Linked DNA regions of Homo sapiens: region 2 is linked to region 1. Evidence: fine-mapped expression QTL. A gene starts in region 1. The other region holds a variant in brackets. All regions are shown on one strand. Distances are from middle to middle. Region 1 holds the start of ACP5 (acid phosphatase 5, tartrate resistant). Region 2 has its middle 9.5 kb from the start of AP1M2.

Region 1 (10,013 bases):
ACTGGGCACAGTGGCTCATGCCTGTAATCCCAGCACTTTGGGAGGCCAAGGCAGGTGAATCACCTGAGGTCAGGAGTTCAAGACCAGCCTGACCAACATGGTGAAATGCCGTCTCTACTAAAAATACAAAATTAGCCAGGCATGGTGGTGGGGGCCTGTAATCCCAGCTACCTGGGAGGCTGAGGCAGGAGAATTGCTTAATCGGTTGAACCCAGGAGATGGAGGTTGCAGTGAGCCAACATTACACCCATGTACTCCAGCCTGGGTGACAGAGTGAGACTCCATCTCAAAAAAGAAAAAAAAAAAAGTGGAGTGCAGTAACGGGAATGTGTGCAGAACTATGTGTATATTGTGTTGCTTTTGGTGTAAAAAATGGGAATGTGTTTGCAGTGGCATGCCCCTGTAATCTCATCTACTCGGGAGGCTGAGATGGATCACTTGAGCCCAGGAGCTCAAGACCAGCCTGGGCAACATAGCAAAACTCTGTCTCTGAAAAACAGTCTGGAAGCAATAGCTCATGCCTGTAATCCCAACACTTTCGGAGGCTGAGGCAGGAGGATTGCTTGAGCCCAGGAGTACAAGACCGGTTTGGGCAACAGAACAAGACTCCCATCTCTACAAAAAAAAAAAATCTAAAAATTAGTTAGGAGTGGTGGTGCGTGCCTGTAGTCCTAGCTACTTGAGAGGCTAGGGTGGGAGGATTTCTTGAGCCCAGGAGTTTGAGGCTGCAGGGAGCTATGATTGCACCACTGCACTCCAGCCTGGACAATATAGCAAGACCCCTCTCCCTAAAGAAATAATAGGCCGGGCACGGCGGCTCACGCCTGTAATCCCAACACTTTGGGAGGCTGAGGCGGGCAGGTCATGAGGTCAGGAGATTGGGACCATCCTGGCCAACATGGTGAAACCCCATCTCTACTAAAAATACAAAAATTGCCAGGCGCGGTGGCTCACTCCTGTAATCCCAGCACTTTGGGAGGCTGAGGCAGGCGGATCACGAGGTCAGGAGATTGAGACCATCCTGGCTAACACGATGAAACCCCATCTCTATTTAAAAATACAAAAAACGAGCCGGGTGTGGTGGCAGACGCCTGTAATCCCAGCTACTTGGGAGGCTGAGGCAGGAGAATGGTGTGAACCCGGGAGGCAGAGCTTGCAGTGAGCCGAGATCACGCCGCTGCACTCCAGCCTGGGCGACAGAGCAAGACTCCATCTCAAAAAAAAAAAAAAAAAAAAAAAAAATTAGCTGGGCGTGGTGGCGCGTGCCTATAATCCCAGCTACTCAGGAGGCTGAGCCAGGAGAATTGCTTGAATCTGGGAGTTGGAGGTTTCAGCGAGCCGAGCTCACGCCACTGCACTCCAGCCTGGTGACAGAGTGAGACTCCATCTCAAAAAAAAAAAAAAAGAAAAAAAAAAGAAAATAATAAAGGGAATGTTTTGATTATGGAGGCATAGACTATATAGAGAAAGAAAATGATTAATATTAGTTGCCCCTGGGGTGGAGGAAGACTTGCTTTATGTTGTACCCTTCTTTCTGCTTGGATTTTATTGAATTAATTTTTTTTTTGAGACAGAGTCTTGCTCTATCACCCAGGCTGGAGTGCAGTGGCACAATCTCAGCTCACTGCAATCTCCGCCCTCACCTCTCCACCCCCTTTACCCGCAAACCCCCTAGGCTCAAGTGATTCTCTCGCCTCAGCCTCCCAAGTAGCTGGGATTACAGTCATGTGTCACCACGCCTAGATAAGTTTTGTATTTTTAGTAGAGATGGGGTTTCACCATGATGGCCAGGCTGGTCTTGAACTTCTGACCTCAAGTGATCCGACCACCTAGGCCTTGCAAAGTGCTGGCATTACAGGTGTGAGCCATCGTGCCTGGCCTATTTTATTTACTTATTTTTTTTGAGACAGATTCTTGCTCTGTCACCCAGGCTGGAGTACAGTGGCACAATCTCAGCTCATTGCAACCTCCGCCTCCTGGGTTCAAGCAATTCTCCTGCCTCAGCCTCCTGAGTAGCTAGGACCATAGGCTCCTGCCACCACAACTGGCCAATTTTTTTTTTTCAGGCAGAGTTTAACTCTTGTTGCCCAGGCTGGAGTGCAGTGGCGCAATCTTGACTCACTGCAGCCTCCACCTCCCAGATGCAAGTGATTCTCCTGCCTCAGACTCCCAAGTAGCTGGGATTACAGGCACTCGCCAGCAAGCCTGACTAACTTTTTGTATTTTTAGTGGACATGGGGTTTCACTATGCTGGCCAGGCTGATCTTGAACTCCTGACCTCAAATAATCCACCCGCTTTGGCCTCCCAAAGTGCTGGGATTACAGATGTGAACCACTGAGCCTGGCCTCTGCTTGGATTTTATTTTTTTTTTATTTTTTATTTTTTTGAGATGGAGTCTCGCTCTTTCACCCAGGCAGGAGTGCAGTGGCGCTATCTTGGCTCACTGCAAGCTCCGCCTCCTGGGTTCACACTATTCTCCTGCCTCAGCCTCCCAAGTAGCTGGGACTACAGGCACCCGCCGCCACGCCTGGCTAATTTTTTTGTAGTTTTAGTAGAGACGGGGTTTCACCATGTTAGTCAGGATGGTCTCGATCTCCTGACCTCGTGATCCGCCCACCTCGGCCTCCCAAAGTGCTGGGATTACAGGTGTGAGCCACCGTGCCTGGCCGGGTTTTATAATCACATCCATGGATAAGGCAACTTGGTCATGGATGGGGTAAGAGATGGAGGCAAGGAACAGCAGCTCAGGGGAGCCCAGCCACTCTAACCAGGAGAACATAACACACCAGTGGCACTGGTTCAGCCTTGGCAACTATTCTTTTATTGAACATCAGTAACAGAAAGATGCTTGATTTAGGAGGAAGCTTTCCCTCCCTCCCTCCCCCATTGCACCCCGGAACTCAGCAAAGGTGAGCCAGCCACAGAGCATAACACTGTGGCTGGGACACATGTCCATGTGTGTTTCACATACGTGGGCATCTGTGCCACAAGGGTCATGTGGCACCACAGTTCATCAGCTGTGTTTCCCCTTCCTGCCCTGCTGCAGCGCCACAGGTTGGAGGAAAAGCCTGCCTGTGAGCAGGGTCCCGGCAGGGCCCACCCACCCAACAGTGGAGATCGGGCCTCAGAGCTGGGCAGTCATGGGAGTTCAGGGCCTGGCTCGCCTCGGCAGCCTGGTCTTAAAGAGGGACTTGCCCGAGGCCTCGATGTAAGTGACAGTCATCTCTTTGGAGCTGATCTCCACATAGGCAAAGCCACCCAGTGAGTCTTCAGTCCCATAGTGGAAGCGCAGATAGCCGTTGGGGACCTTGCGCTGGTGCCGCTTTGAGGGGTCCATGAAATTCCCAGCCCCACTCAGCACGTAGCCCACGCCATTCTCATCTTGCAGGTACTGAGGATGGAGGACAAGGGGTCAGTGGAGACCCAGCTTTGAGCAGAGCCCTGCCTAAGGTCCAGGGCTCGATCTGGCCCTAACCACAGAGTCACCTTGAGGTATGTAACCCCTCCTGGCTTCAATTTCCTGACTTTTAGGAGTGTATTAATCCTATTTCATAGGTAGAGCACTTAGTAAGAAATTGGTGGCCAGGTGTGGTGGCTCATGCCTGTAATCCCAGCACTTTGGGAGGCTGAGGGGGTGGATTGCTTGAGCCCAGGAATTTGAGACCAGCCTGGGCAACATAGTGAGACCTTGCCTCTACAAAAAAAATGCGCAAGGGCCAGGTGCAGTGGCTCATGCCTATAATCCCAGCACTTTGGGAGGCCGAGGCGGGCAGATCACTTGAGGTCAGAAGTTCGAGATCAGCCTGGCCAACATGGTGAAACCCCGTCTCTACTAAAATATAAAAATTAGCAAGGTTTGGTGGCCCATGCTTGTAATCCCAGCTACTTGGGAGGCTGAGACAGGAGAATTGCTTGAACCCAGGAGGCGGAGGTTGCAGTGAGTTGAGATCGTGCCACTGCACTCCCTCTCAAAAAAAAAAAAAAAAGCAAAAATTAGCTGCATGTGGTGGCCCATGCCTGTAGTGTCAGCTACTCTGGAGGCTGAAGTGGGAGGTTCACCTGAGCCCGGGAGATTGAAGCTGCAGTAAGCCCCGATTGCACCACTGCACTCCAGCCTGGGTGAAAAACAATGAAACCTTGTCTCCAAAAAAAAAAAAAAAAAAGAGCTTAAAAAAGAAAGAAAGAAAGAAATTGGCAATTCGAAGATATTATTCTGGCTTTGGAGTGTTTTCCTGGTTAGACAGCAAGATTTGAGGGACAGTCTAGACATTCTGAAGGCCACAGGAGACCCTCAAACAGCAGGAGGACCCCAGCCATGTGGACATCAGCTGGGATGGGGACCCCCCTCACCCAGCTCCCACCCCACCCACAGGGCCCTCACCTGCAGATTGTGATCGTGGCCGCACAGGTAGGCAGTGACCCCGTATGTGGCCAGCAGTGGCCGTAGCTGCTTGACCAGGCAGTGGGTAGGCCCGTGCTCGGCTATGGACCACACGGGGTAGTGGCCAGCCACCAGCACGTAGTCCTCCCTGGCCGCCGCCAGCTGTTTCTTGAGCCAGGACAGCTGTGTGCGGGCCAGCTTCACGTCTCGGGGCCTCTCAGGCTGCTGGCTGAGGAAGTCATCTGAGTTGCCACATAGTGTCACTGTGTCCAGCATAAAAATGGCCACAGACACATTGGTCTGTGGGATCTTGAAGTGCAGGCGGTAGAAAGGGCTGGGGAAGTTCCTGTGGAGGGGATAGAGGTCGTGGGTGCACATCTTGGGCGCAGAAGTCCCAGGGTCAGCTCAAGCCACAGGGCCCCTGTGTCCCTGCTATGTGAGGATCTCGGAAGGCAGGGCTGAGGGTGGCTCACCAGCGCTTGGAGATCTTAGAGTATGCAATCTGGGCAGAGACATTGCCAAGGTGGTCATGGTTTCCGGCTAGCACGTACCAGGGCACTTTGCGAAGGGAGCGGTCAGAGAATACGTCCTCAAAGGTCTCCTGTAGCAAACAGATAGGGCAGGCCTCTTCCCTGGGGTCAGTGGCTATGCCGATCCTCCCACCAAGTCAGGATAAGGGAGACACTGAATGCTCCCGGCGCCCAAAGGTGCCCCATCACCTTCCCTCTGCCCTCACCAAAGGAAGGTCACTAGGTAAGGCGGCTTCTCCCCACTGCCCGCCCCCACCTCCTGCCCCACTCTGTTGGGCACAGACCTGGAACCTCTTGTCATTGATGTCTTGCACACCAGTGAAGTAAAAATTGTCCCCTAGAGACAGGATGAAGTCTGCACCCAGGATCTGCACAGTCCGAGCGATCTCCTTGGCATTGGCCATTTCCCGGGCCGTGTGGAATGGGGCATTGGGGACCCCTCCCCAGTCACCCACGGCTACAAAGCGCAGGGCAGGGGTGGCACCATCAGCCAGGGAGGGTAGCAACAAGGCTTGCAGGATGAGCAGCGCCGTCCACATGTCCATCTGGGAGAAGAGAGACAAGCATAGGTGGCCCGGGCTGTGACAAGGGCAGGGAGGCCTTGAGACCCCCGCCTGCCCTGAGATAGAGGGAGACTGCTTGCTGCAGGCTGCCCCTGCGGGAACCCCTTGGTGCCCTAATTCTCAGGACACACAAGCTGCACAAGGCTGCACAAGCTGGCTTAGGGAAGGGGGGCGCGGTCTGTGAGAGGGCGAGCTGTACCAAGATGGCCCTGCAGGCCCATTTCACCCTCCTTCCACCTAGCCTGCCCAGCACTCACCCAGGGGGAGACACAGGCCAGTCACCGGAGGCTCTGAGAGGCTGGTGGGCTCTAGAGTAGAACTGCCGGTCCCTGAGCCTTTATTCCCTGAGGAGGAAGTGGATCATTAGTGAGGATGATGCAGTTTCTCCGAGGGCTGTCCCGGGAGCCCTCCCCTTGGGTCATGTGAGCCCTGGACTTCCCTGGAGCAGGACACGGGATTGGGGTGGGGGTGGGAGGATCTGGGCACACGTGTGCAGCAGCCTCGGCCCACACAGCCTCCGGGTGGACCTGCAGGGGCCTGTTTGTGCTGTAGGCTTGACACGTCCAGGTATCTCTGTGTGTCTGTGTATCTCAGTGTGAGTGTGTGTGTGTGTGCACACTTGAGAGGCTGTGGCTGTGATTACCCAAGACACATCTCCTGCACCTTCTTTCTCTGAGTAAGGGCTTACCTGTGTGTGTCTGGGTGTGTCTTGCTTCCTGCGTGCAGCTGAGCATGCCTACCTGGGCCTCGGCTCTGTACCTGATGGTGTTGCTGCAGACATGTATGCTGAGCCTGCGAGGCCTGTGTGGCTTGTCTGCGATGCACGCCTGTGTTCTCACGTGGCACTGGGTGGGAATCCCTATGGATGGAGTTTTGTGTGTGTCCATGTGTGTGTGCCTGGGTTGCATCTCTAGGATGGGTTGCGTGTCTGGTGTGGGAGCTGTGTTTGACAACATCTGGGTGGGGGACTCCGCGTGTGTCCCCGTCCTCCCCCTGCCCTCTCTCCATCCCACACATAAACACCAACGGGCTTCCCTTTTCCAGGAAGTCCTGCCCACACCCTCCCCTCCCCCCAGACTCCCATTCCTGCAGGAGGAACCAGGCAGGAGGCAGCTAGCTGGTGATAGCGCGCGTGACCACAGACCTCTGACCCTCATAGTCTCAGCAGCTGTCTGCAGGCCCTCCACGGGACCGCAGCCTGGGAGGGCAGGAGGCCCTGCACCTGCGGCCGGTCTGACCTGCTCCTCACCTCCCTGCCTGCCTCCTCCGTGCTGGGCGCCGCCGCGACACGTCCCGCGGACATTCAGGAGTCCCTTCAGTCCCTGCGAGCGCGGACCCGGGAGAGAGCTCTCATTCAACGCTGAGGCCACTGGCTCACAGATCTCCCCGGGTCACCCTGCGAAGTGCTTGGTCCCCCCCATTCCCAGCCCTGCAGCAGCAACAAACGGGAAGGAAGTGGGTGACGAGGACAGGCAGAGACCCCTCCCACGGGGCCGCCCGCATCTCACCTGCCGTCGCGGGGCGGGCGTTGCGGCCGGTGCCCAGCTGCAGATCCGCAGGCGATCGCACTCCTGGCGGCCCCAGCTTTAAGCAGGCAGCGGCCGATCCGCCCTGCTCGAGGGCTCAGGGCTGACCCAGGTGAGCCCCGGCGGGGAGGGCGGGCGCCTCGGCCTCCCCGCCCCGGAACCCTGCACCGCCCAGAGCCGCCACGCCTCCCGGCTGTAGGCTCCGCATCTGTAAAATGGGCCGATGAACCCCAAGGGTCGGCTCAGACCCACGGACTGCAGCTGCAGCTGGGCTAGAAGGGGTGGCCAGGGGAGCCGATTTCATCCTTTTCCTTCCTCCACGCCAACCAGGAGCCTCCATCTGCCTGGGACCCTTTGGGGGCACCCATGGGCCCACAGCCGCAGAACCACAGCACTGGGTGGGGTTTCAGCCCTGGGGCCAAGCTCTTGTGAGGTCTGTCATCATCTTCTCCTGTTGTTTTGTTTTTTTGTTTGTTTGTTTGTTTGGTTTTTTTTTTTTTGAGACAGAGTCTCGCTCTTTCACCCAGGCCGGACTGCAGTGGCGCGATCTCGGCTCACTGCAAGCTCTGCCTCCCGGGTTCTCGCCATTCTCCTGCCTCAGCACCCCCGAGTAGCTGGGACTACGGGCGCCGCCACCGCGCCCGGCTAATTTTTTGTATTTTTTAGTAGAGACGGGGTTTCACCGTGTTAGCCAGGATGGTTTCGATCTCCTGACCTCGTGATCCACCCACCTTGGCCTTCCAAAGTGCTGGGATTACAGGCGTGAGCCACCGCGCCCGGCCTGTTTTTGTTTTTTTTTTTTTTGAGACAGTTTTATTCTGGTTGCCCAGGCTGGAGTGCAGTGGCGCAATCTTGGCTCACGCAACCTCCGCCTCCCGGGTACAAGCGATTCTCCTGCCTCAGCCTCCCTAGTAGCTGTGATTACAGGCACGCACCACCACGCCCGGCTAATTTTGTATTTTTAGTAGAGACGGGGTTTCTCCATGTTGGCCAGGCTGGTCTCCAATGCCCGATCTCAGGTGATCTGCCCACCTCAGCCTCCCAAAGTTCTGCGATTACAGGCGTGAGTCACCATGCCTGGCCAGTCTCCTGTTTTTTTAAAAACTTATTATTTAGCCGGTGTGGTGTCTCACACCTGTAATCCTGGCACTTTGGGAGGCCGAGGTGAGCGGATCACTTGAGGTCAGGTGTTCCAGACCAGCCTGGGCAACATGGCAAAACCTTGTCTCTACTAAAAAGACAAAAATTAGCTGGAGGTGCTCTCTTGAACCCAGGAGGCAGAGGTTGCAGTGAACTGAGATCATGCCACTGCACTCCAACCCAGGAGGAGGAGGTTGCACTGAGCCAATATCATGCCACTACATTCCAGCCTGGGCGACAGAGCAAGACTCTGTCCCCCCCAAAAAAAAAACAGAAAAAAAAAAAAAGAAAGAAATCTGAAGCAATTATGACCAAATGTTAACATCTGTTTCTTCACGTGGTGGGTACAGGCGTGTTTTGGAAGCTTCTATGCTTCCTGTATTTTGAGATCACACAAAATTATGTTTATTATCTTATTGTGCTACATGATCTTTGTAGAAAAGTTGGTAAATTCTGGAATGCACGAAGAAAAAGATTATAATAGCCAGTAATACCCCTGCCCAGAGAGACAGTATCCATTAATTTTTCTCTGCCTATGTTTGTCTTCGGAAAAATGGGATACTATTGGCACTATTTTATAACTTTTTAATTTGTATTAACACTTTCTATATTTTTTAAATTGAAAAAGCTGGCCAAGCATGGTGGCTCAGGCCTGTAAACCCAGCCAATGTGGGAGGATCGCTTGAGCCCGGGAGTTCAGGAACAGCCTGGGCATCGTGGCGAGACCACATTGCTACAAAAAAAAAAAAAAAAAAAAAAAAAATTAGCCAGGCATGGTGGTGCACACCTGTGGTTCCATCTACTCAGGAAGCTGAGGTGGAGGATCGCTTGAGCCTGGGAGTTTGAGGCTGCAATAAGCTACGAATGCACCACTGACCTTCAGCCTGGGCAACACAGCTAGACTCTTGTCTCAGAGAGAGAGAGAGAGAGAGAGAGAGAGCACAATGAAAAAAATAAACCTGATCTTGCACAGAGCATGTAATAAAACCTGTGCGTTCTTGGCTATCTCTCTCTGGTCTCCTCCAGGGTGCTGAATAAGCTCTTCTCTCTCCATTCACCCAGGAGAACTCTCTTCTGCTGATTTTCTGTGGAGCTAGATCAGGCTGTGACTCAGAATCTCCCTCCACCTCCACCCTTTCCTATTTTCCCAACACCAGTGTCAATCTCAGATGTCAACAACCCCACGAGTGAGTTCCTCCTGTTGCCAATACATCCAGGTCCTGTTCTCCGCTGCTGTCTCTACCCAATCCCTTCCCTTCCTTCCTCCTGCCAATCCTGCTTTCCCTGTTTCTTGCTCCTCTGACCTCCTCCGCATTGCTTGACTGTCTCAGATACACTCTGGCCTCAGGGTCTTGGCACTTTCTGTTCTCCCTGCCTGGAAGGGTCTTCCTTAGTCAGATACTGAGGTCACCCATTGTGTTCAAGTTCCTTTAATTTATCTGAAATGAGTCTGGGCGTGGTGGCTCACGCCTGTAATCCCAGCACTTTGGGAAGCCAAGCCGGGTGGATCACTTGAGGCCAGGAGTTCGAGACCAGCCTGGCCAACATGGTGAAACCCCATCTCTACTAAAAATACAGAAATTAGCTGGGCGTGGTGGCACAAACCTGTGGTCCCAGCTACTCAGGAGGTCGAGGCAGGAGAATTGCTTGAACCTGGGAGGCGGAGGTTGCAGTGAGCCAAGATCGTGCCACTGTACTCTAGCCTGGGTGACAGAGTGAGACTCTGTCTCAAAAAAAAAAAAAAAAAAAGAAAAAGATAATTTATCTGAAATTATCTGAAATGCACCACCCTGCCCCCATCATTGACTCTCCTGTTGCTGTAGTTTTCTCTGCAGCACTTACCAGTGCTTGAGAAAACCACCCACTCATTTA
Region 2 (10,013 bases), 980 kb before region 1:
CAGCCCCTTGAATTACAGAAGCCTATTTTTTTTTTTTATTTATTTGAGACAAGGACTTGCTTTGTCGCCCAGGCTGCGGTGCAGTGGTGCAAACACGGCTCACTGCAGCCTCAACCTTCTGAACTCAAGAGATCCTCTCACCTAGGCCTCTCCAGTAGCTGGGACTACAGGTGAGCAACACCACTCCCAGCTAATTTTTAAATTTTTTTTTTTTTTTTTTTTGAGACAGAGTCTTGCTCTGTCGCCCAGGCTGGAGTGCAGTGGCGCAATCTCGGCTCACTGCAACTTCCGCCTCACAGGTTCACACCCTTCTCCTGCCTCAGCCTCCGGAGTAGCTGGGACTACAGGCATCCGCCATCAAGCCCGGCTAATTTTTTTGTATTTTTAGTAGAGACGGGGTTTCACCGTGTTAGCCAAGATGGTCTCGATCTCCTGACCTCGTGATCCGCACACCTCAGCCTCTCAAAGTGCTGGGATTACAGGCGTGAGCCACCGTGCCTGCCCAATTTTTAAATTTTTTGTAGAGATGGGGTCTCGCTACGTTGCTCAAGCTGGTCTTGAGCTTCTGGCCTCAAGCTGTCCTCCCACCTCAGCCTTCCAAAACACTGAGATTACAGACACGAGTCACCTCCCCCAACTCTATTATCTTCATTTGACAGATAGGGAAACTGAGGCCTTGAGAGAGTAAGTGATTTGTACAATGTCATCCAGTCAGAAGAAGCAGAGCTGGGATTTGAGCTCTGGAAAGCACAAGGTTTTTTTGTTTTGTTTTGTTTTTTGTTTTGAGACAGAGTCTCGCTCTGTCGCCCAGGCTGGAGTGGAGTGGTGTGATCTTGACTCACTGCAACCTCCGCCTCACGGGTTCGAGTGATTCTTCTGTCTCAGCTTCCCAAGTAGCTGGGACCACAGGTTTGTGCCACTATGCCTGGCTAATTTTTGTATTTTTAGTAGAGATGGGGGTTCGCCATTTTGGCCAGGACGGTCTCAAACTCCTGACCTTGTGATCCGCCCGCATTGCACGTTGGCCTCCCAAAGTGCTGGGATTACAGGTTTGAGCCACTGCACCCGGACTTTTTTGTTTTTTGAGATGGAATTTCACTCTTGTTGCCCAGGCTGGAGGGCAATGGTGCAACCTTGGCTCACCATACCCTCCGCCTCCCAGGTTCAAGTGATTCTCCTGCCTCAGCCTCCCAAGTAGCTGGGATTACAGGCATGCACCACCATGCCTGGCTAATTTTGTATTTTTAGTACAGACAAGGTTTCTCCATGTTGGTCAGGCTGGTCTCAAACTCCCGACCTCAGGTGATCCACCCACCTCAGCCTCCCAAAGTGCTGGGATTACAGGGGTGAGCCATCGCACCTGGCCCTGATTATTATTATTATTATTATTATTATTTTTGAGGCAGGGTCTCTGTCACCCAGGCTGGAGTGCAGTGGTGTGATCTCAGCTCACTGCAACCTCCACCTCCCCAGGTTCAAGCAATCAAGCAATTCTCCCACCCCAGCCTCCTGCACAGCTGGGACCACAGGTGCGTGACCACCACATCCAGCTAATTTTTATACTTTTTGGTACAGACAGGTTTCACAATGTCGCCCAGGCTGGTCTCCAACTTGTGGACTTAAGTGGTCCACCCGCCTCGGCCTCCCACAGTGCTGGGATTATAGGCGTGAGCCATCTCGCCCAGCCTAAAGCCCAAGACTTTATGTTGCTTCTGCCCAAAGGAGGGGGGTGGTCCTTCATGCTCCCAGCAACTGCCTGCTGAGAAGGTCACCTAGGGGGATGCAGTCACTGCTAGGCCCTCACCCCAGCCTAGACATTGCTGAACCTCAAAATAACTCGTCTCCTGGCAGCCGGGCGTGGTGGCTCACGCCTGTAATCCTAGCACTTCGGGAGGCTGAGGTGGGTGGATCACCTGAGGTCAGGAGTTTGAGACCAGCCTGGCCAAAATGGTGAAACCCTGTCTGGACTAAAAATACAGAATTAGCCGGGGGTGGTAGCACATGCCTGTAATCCCACCTACTCAGGAGACTGAGGCAGGAGAATCACTTGAAACTGGGAGGCAGAGGTTGCAGTGAGCCAAGATTGCGCCATTGCACTCCAGCCTGGGGCAATAGAGTGAGACTCTGTCTCAAAAACAACAACAACAACAAAATGAAGAACTCATCTCCTGGGGCCCTGAGATGTTTTCAGGCAGTAAGCAGAACCCGAAAGCCTGGGCCCAGTGCCCTGGAATCTGAAACTCCAGGCTTGTTTGGCATGAAAAATTCATGAGCCCAAAAGCTTACTTGGGGTCAGAGAACAGAGCAGCTCTGTGTGCTGGCTCTGCCTGCCCCGCCTGCCCCACCTCAGTGGCGGCCTCCCCCATCCCCCTGAGGCTGTGGCCTTGTCCTAGTTCCTTCTGGATGCCTGGAGCCTCCTCCAGCCTCTCCCAGGGACCACGCCTCTAGGCCCTGTCCACAATCCCTTCTCCACACCACTAAAGAGATCTCTCTGAAACTCACAATTATTTTTTGACTCTCACTCTCACATCCTCTATGGCCCCCCATTGCCCTCCAACCACCCCCACCTGGCACAGTCAGACACCTGCTGACCTCTGCCACAGGACACCACCTGAACCTGCTGTCCCAGACACCCTAACTGCCCGAATTTCAGTTCCTCTCCTGCTGTCTCAAGCCATCCTCCCACCTCAGCCTCCCAAGTAGCTGAGACTATAGACACGTGCCACCACAGCTGGCCACCTTAGCCATTTTGAAGTGCACAGTTCGGTGGCATTAAGCACATTAATGGCCATGCAACCGTCACCACCATCCATCTCCAGAACTTTCTCATCTTCCCAAAGGAAAACTTCTCCCTATGAAACACTCCTTCTCCCTCTCCCAACCCCTGGCACCCACTCTTCTTCTTCTTCTTCTTCTCCTTTTCCTTCTCCTCCTCCTCCTTCTTCTTCTTCTTTTCTTTTTTTTATTTATTTTGAGATGGAGTCTCACCGTCACCGAGGCTTGAGTGCAGTGGCACAATCTCGGCTCACTGCAGCCTCCATCTCCTAGGTTCAAGCAGTTCTCCTGCCTCAGCCTCCTGAGTAGCTGGGATTACAGGCGCCCCCCACCACGCCCAGCTAATTTTATTTTTTTATATTTTATTTATTCATTTACTTTTATTATTTTATTATTATTTTTTTTTGAGACAGAGTCTCGCTCTGTTGCCCAGGCTGGAGTGCAGTGGCACGATCTCAGCTCCCTGCAAGCTCTGCCTCCCGGGTTCATGCCATTCTCCTGCCTCAGCCTCCCGAGTAGCTGGGACTACAGGTGCCTGCCACCACACCCGGCTAATTTTTGTATTTTTAGTAGAGGCAGGGTTTCGCCATATTGGCCAGGCTGGTCTCTTGGCCAAGCTGGTCTGGAACTCCTGACCTGGAGATGTGCCTGCCTCAGCCTCCCAAAGTGCTGGGATTATAGGCGTGAGCCGCCGCGCCCAGCTTTTTTTTCTTTTTTTTTTGAGACGGATTCTCACTTTGTCGCCCAGGGGCTGGAGTGCAGTGGCGCAATCTCAGCTAATTGCAACCTCCTCCTTCTCCTAGTTCAAGTGATTCTCCTGCCTCAGCCTCCCAAGTAGCTGGGATTACAGGCATCTGCCACCACGCTGGGCTAATTTTTGTATTTTTGGTAGAGACTGGGTTTCGCCATGTTGACTAGGCTGGTCTCAAACTCCTGACCTCAAGTGATCCACCCATCTCAGCCTCCCAATGTGCTGGGATTACAAGTGTAAGCCACCATGCCCAGCTACTCAGGAGTCTGAGGTGGGAGGATCACTGGAGCCCAGAAGATTGAGGCTGCAGTGAGCTATGGTTGCACCACTGCACTCCAGCCTCGGTGACAAAGCAAGAACCTATCTTAAGAAAATACTGTGCTGAGCCAGTTCCTGAGAAAACAAAATAGAAAACAAAACTAAAGAAAAGGCAAAAGTTCCTCCCAGCAGAGATGTGAGAGAAAAAGAAAAAAAAAGTCCCCTGTGACACCCCCATACCCCAATCTTCGTCCCTCTCATAACCACTGGCTGATTCAGATCTTTTTCAGCTGGGTTACATGCAGGGGGGTGTGTGTGTGTGTTTGTGTGTGTGTGTGTGTGTGTGTGTGTGTGTGCGCGTGTTGCCCTCTTTCTCTCTCTTTCTCCCATACCATATAAGACTATACAACTTGTGGATGGGCACAGTGGCTCTCACCTGTAATCCCAGAACTTTGGGAGGCAGAGGCGGGTGGGGCACTTGAGGCCAAGAGTTCAAGAGCAGCCTGGGCAACATGGCAAAAAATCTGTCTCTACTAAAAATATAAAAACTGGCCAGGTGTGGTGGCTCACGCCTGTAATCCCTGCACTTTGGAGGCTAAGGCAGGTGAATCACCTGAGGTCAGGAGTTTGAGACAAGCCTGGCCAACATGATAAAATCCTGTCTCTACTAAAAATACAAAAAATTAGCCAGGTATGCTGGCGGACACCTGTAATCCCAGCTACTCGGGAGGCTGAGGCAGGAGAATTGCTTGAACCCAGGAGGCAGAGGTTGCAGTGAGCCGAGATCATGCCACTGCACTCGAGCCTGGGTGACAGAACAAGAATCTGTCTCAAAAACAAAACAAAACAAAACAAACAAGCAACAACAACTATATATATATATATATATATGTATATAGACTAAGCTGGGCATGGTGGTGCGTACCTGAAATCCCAGCTACTCCAGAGGCTGAGGCACACAAATCACTTGAACCCAAGAGAAGGAGGTTTCAGTGAGCTGAGCTCGCACCACTGCACTCCAGCCTGGGCGACAGAGAGAGACTCTGTCTTAAATAAAAAAAAAAAAATACAACTTGCTATTATCACTCAACAATATGACCTGGACGCTACTCCGGAAAGCATGTGGTTGAAGGGGAAGGAAGTGTGTCTTGGGTGTAAAGTCGGACTCCCTGGGTTCAGATCCTTGCAGAGCCACGGGCT[C/T]ATTATGTTACTGTGGGTAAATTACTTCACCTCTCTGGGTCACTTTCCCCAATTGGAAAATGATTATAATGATTTAATACAGAGTGCTTGGGCCAGACGCGGTGTCTCACGCCTGTAATCCCAGCACTTTGGGAGGCCGAGGCGGTGGATCATGAGGTCAGGAGATTGACACCATCATGGCTAAGACAGTGAAACCCGTTCTTCACTAAAAATACAAAAAACTAGCTGAGCGTGGTGGTGGGTGCTGTAATCCCAGCTACTCAGAAGGCTGAGGCAGGAGAATTGCTTGAACCCGGGAGGCAGATGGTGCAGTGAGCTGAGATCACGCCACTGCACTCCAGCTTGGCGACAGAGTGAGACTCCATCTCAAAAACTAAAACAAACAACAACAACTATATACACACACACACACACACATACACACACAGAGAGCACTTTACTGGGTGAGCCAAGATCGCGCCACTGCCCTCCAGCAGCCTTGGTTCAAAAAAAAAAGGTGCTTGGCCAGCATGGTGGCTCATGCTTGTAATCCCAGCACTTCAAGAGGCCAAGATGGGCAGATCGATTGAGGCTAATGAGACCTGGTCTCTATTTCAAAAAAAAGAAAAAGAGTTAAAAAAATATATAAAGCATTTAATACCTTGTCTGACACTGACTAAGCTTTCTATAAACATTCACTCTTTCTTTCCTTTTTTTTTTTTTTGAGACCGAGTCTCGTTCTGTCACCCAGGCTGGTGTGCAATGGTGCACTCTTGGATCACTGCAACCTCTGACTCCCAGGTTCAAGTGATTCTCCTGCTTCAGCCTCCCAAGTAGCTGGGATTACATGCATGTGCCACCACACTCGGCTAATTTTGTATTTTTAGTAAAGACGGGATTTCTCCATGTTGGTCGGGCTGGTCTCGAACTCCCGACCTCAGGTGATCCGCCCGCCTCGGCCTCCCAAAGTGCTGGGATTACAGGTGAGAGCCACTGCGTCTGGCCTTAGAGACAGATTTTCATCGTGTTGTCCAGGCTAATCTTGAACTCCTGTCCTCAAGTGACCCTCCTGCCTCCCAGAGTGCTGGGATCACAGATGTGAGCCACCACTCCTGGCTGTAAACAGTCACTCTTATTATAATCTGCAGGACCACCACCTTTTTTCTTAAACTATTTTAAAAATTCTCATTTTGAAATGTAACTTTTTTATTTATTATGTATACAAACACACATATATATTTGCATCATAAATGTTATTCCCAATATGGGACAGATTCCTTTCAACCCCCAGGTGAATCACATGGTACCCTGGAAAGACCTAGGAAGCCCTCCCTCCCACCATCTCCAGGGAGGTAGTGAGAACGGCAGGTGCTGGGGACTGGGAAGGCTTTGGAGTTTCCCAGCCTACCTCTTCTCCCTTTCTCAACAAAGGATACCTGTTCCCTATTATTCCCCTTATCCACTCTTCCCTTTTTTAAAAAAAACCCACAAAACCATCATTAGTAAAAAAACAAACAAAACCCCTTCAAGTATTGGGAGTTAGGGGTCCTGGGCTGGGACTTGGAGTTACAGGTCACCAAGGAAGAGGGAAGGGAAGAGAAGGAGGGGCTGTCACTTACTACTGCTGGCTTTCTTCCTTGCTGCATGCTATGGCAACTGTGTGTCGACCTCCTTTGCTGGCAACTGCACGTATGGGACCACTGAGCCCGGAATGAAACAGTCCTTTTTAAAAAACTTTTTTTGAGACAGAGTCTCGCTCTGTCACCCAGGCTGGAGTGCAGTGGCATGATTTCAGCTCACTGCAGCCTCCACCTCCCGGGTTCCAGCAACTCTCCTGCCTCAGCTTCCCGAGTAGCTGTGAATACAGGCGCCCGCCACCACATCCGGCTAAGTTTTGTATTTTAGTAGAGATGGGGTTTTGCCATGTTGGCCAGGCTGGTCTCAAACTCCTGACCTCAGGTGATCCACCTGCCTTGGCCTCCCAAAGTGCTGGGGTTACAGGTGTGAGCCACTGCACCCAGCCTAGAAGTTCTTCACTGATAAAATGTGAGGATATTTCTCAAGGTGTGTGATACTGATGTCAGCTCATTTGATGTTGAGATACTGATCCACCGAATGGAGGGTGCCACAGATGTTCAGGTCTTTCTTGAGTTCCATGACCACATTCATGCCCACAAGGGACTTGAAAAAAGGAATAGAAGAGCATGATGCTGGCGACCTGACCAGGAAGAGCAACACATATTTTATTTTATTTATTTATTTATTTGAGATGCTGTCTCACTCTTTCACCCAGGCCGGAGTGCAGTGGTGCAATCTTGGCTCACTGCGACCTCTGCCTCCCGGGGTCAAGCAATTCTCTGCCTCAGCCTCCTGAGGAGCTGGGATTACAGGCGCCCGCCGCCACGCCCGTCTAATTTTTTTTTTTTTTTGTATTTTTAGTAGGGACCAGGTTTCACCAAGTTAGTCAAGCTGGTCTTGAACTCCTGACCTTGTGATCCACTCAACTCAGCTTCCCAAAGTGCTGGGATTACAGGCGTGAGCCACCGTGCCGGGCCAGCAACACATATTTTAAAAGGGCAGAAGTCGGTTGGGCACAGCGGCTTACACCTGTAATCCCTGCACTTTGGGAGGCTGAGGTTGGTGGATCACCTGAGATCAGGAGTTCGAGACCAGCCTGGGCAACATGGCGAAACCCCGTCTCTACTAAAATACAAAAATTGCCACTGTACTCCAGCTTGGGCAACAGAGCAAGATTCTGTCTCAGAAAAAAAAGGCAGGCAGAGTACGGGGGAGAAGGTCAAGTATTCACAAACTAAACTAAGCTATGTAACTACAATTCTGTTTCCAGTGCCCAGAAGCTGCTCCTATCATCCCAGTAGTTATTACTACCCCAAAAGTCAACCACTGATATATGTTCTGTTACTATAGGTTGATTAGCTATGCCTGTTCTTGAACTTCAGAAAAAAGTGTGTGGTTTCTTTCACACAACATTATGCTTTTTGGGGAGAGATTCATCCATATTTTTGCCTGTATCAATAGTTTATTCCTGGACCAGGCGCTGTGGCTCACACCTGTAATCTCAGCACTCTAGGAGGCTGAGGCAGAAGGATCACTTGAGACCAGCCTGGGCACCCATAGGGAGACCCTCATCTCCACAAAAATTTAAAAAATTAGCCGAGTATGTCCAGGTGCGGTGGCTCATGCCTATAATCCCAGCACTTTTGGAGGCTGAGGGGGGCGGATCACCTGAGGTCGGGAGTTCCAGACCAGCCCGACCAACATAGAGAAACCCCGTCTCTACTAAAAATACAAAATTAGCCAGGCGTGGTGGTGCATGCCTGTAATCCCGGCTACTCAGAGACTAAGGCAGGAGAATCACTTGAACTTGGGAGACGGAGGTTGCGGTGAGCTGAGATCACACCATTGCACCATTGCACTCCAGCCTGAGCAACAAGAGTGAAACTTTGTCAAAAAAAGAAAGAAAGAAAGAAATTAGCCAGGCATGATAGTGTGTGCCTGTAGTCCCAGCAACGGGAGGCTGAGGCAGGAGGATCACTTGAGCTGAGGAGGTCAGGGCTTCAGTCAGCTATGACTGCACCATCGCAATCCAGCCTGGGCAATACAGCAAGATCCTGTCCCTAAAAAAAGAAAGAAGAAAACATTCATTCCTCATCACTAAGGAGAATCCCATGGTATGGGTGAAACCCACCATGGTTTGCTTCACCAATGATCTGTTAATGGGCATTTGGGCTGCTCCTAGTTTTTTTGCCCACTACGAATAAGGATACTATAAGGCTATCATGAACATTTATATGAATGTGTCTGTGGGTTTTTCTTTTCTTCACTTATACTTTTTCTTGGGTATATACCTAGAAGTGCAATTTCTAGGGTATTAACTTTGCAAGAAACTGCCAGATCGTTTTCCAACTGGTTGTGGCATTTTACATTCTCACCAACAGTGTAGGAGAGCCCCCATATGCTTCCCATCTTCCTCAACACTTGGTTCGACCAGTCTTTTTAATTTTAGCTATTCAGGTGGGTGTGCAATGATATCTCATCGAGGTTTTGATTTACATTTCCCTGATGACTTCGTGCTTTATTCTTTTTTCTTTCTTTCTTTCTTTTTTTTTTTTTTTTTGAGACAGGGTCTCACTCTGTCACCCAGGCTGGAGTGCAGTGATGTTTTCACCCATTTTTCTTTCTTTTTTTTTTTCTTTTTGAGACAGAGTTTCGCTTTTTGCCCAGTTCTGTTGCCCAGTTTGGAGTGCAATAGCGTCATCTCAGCTCACCGCAACCTCCACCTCCTGGGTTCAAGCGATTCTCCTCCTCAGCCTCCAGAGTAGCTGGGATTACAGGCATGTGCCACCACACCAGGCTAATTTTTTGTATTTTTAGTAAAGACAGGGATTCTCCATGTTGGTCAGGCTGGTCTCGAACTCCCGACTTCAAGTGATCCGCCCGCCTCGGCCTCCCAAAGTGCTGGGATTACAGGCGTGAGCCTCCGCACCCGGCCTGTTTTCACCCATTTTTTCCACAATAACTGTCAAGGCTGCAGGGAACACCCCTTGGTTACTACATCCCATGCACACACACCTGCAGTGGTTTGTCCAGGGTCAGTGCCAGACAGGAATCGCACCAGGTGAACATGACTTGGATATACTCTTTCTGCCAGGAAACATTCTGCTTCAAAGTATTCACTCACCTGATTTTATGTTATTAAACTCTAAAATTCTTACCAATCTGATGAATGAAAATGGCATCTTTTGGTATGTTCAGTGGTACACGGTGATCAATATTTACCTATCAATTATTTATCTATCCATCTTCTATTATTATTTTTATTTTATTTTATTTTATTTTATTTTTTGAGACGGAGACGGAGTGTCGCTCTGTCGCCCAGGCTGGAGTGCAGTGACACGGTCTCGGCTCACTGCAAGCTCCGCCTCCCGGGTTCACGCCATTCTCCTGCCTCAGCCTCCCGAGTAGCTGAGATTACAGGTGCCCGCCACCACTCCCGGCTAATGTTTTGTATTTTTAGTAGAGACGGGGT

The links.
Region 2: its variant is fine-mapped to the expression of ACP5 in breast (GTEx, PIP 0.98).

What each region holds. Positions count from the first base shown.
Region 1 is chr19:11,571,861-11,581,873 of GRCh38, forward strand. It overlaps ACP5 (acid phosphatase 5, tartrate resistant), which reads right to left and starts at 5,785. Exons shown (of 5, transcript NM_001611.5): 1 at 5,733-5,785; 2 at 5,197-5,457; 3 at 4,856-4,983; 4 at 4,383-4,728; 5 at 2,800-3,392. The coding sequence starts at 5,457. The coding sequence ends at 3,150. LOC124904638 (a long non-coding RNA gene) reads left to right here and starts at 3,389. Exons shown (of 2, transcript XR_007067140.1): 1 at 3,389-3,493. RefSeq lists enhancers at 5,271-5,883, 5,884-6,495, 5,965-6,104, 9,924-10,013 and a silencer at 7,055-7,244.
Region 2 is chr19:10,591,799-10,601,811 of GRCh38, forward strand. It overlaps the pseudogene LSM2P1. Among named protein-coding and RNA genes, the nearest start is that of AP1M2, 9.5 kb to the left of the region's middle. RefSeq lists enhancers at 795-1,319, 1,846-2,370, 3,845-4,034. The variant C/T (reference allele first, on the strand shown) is at 4,985.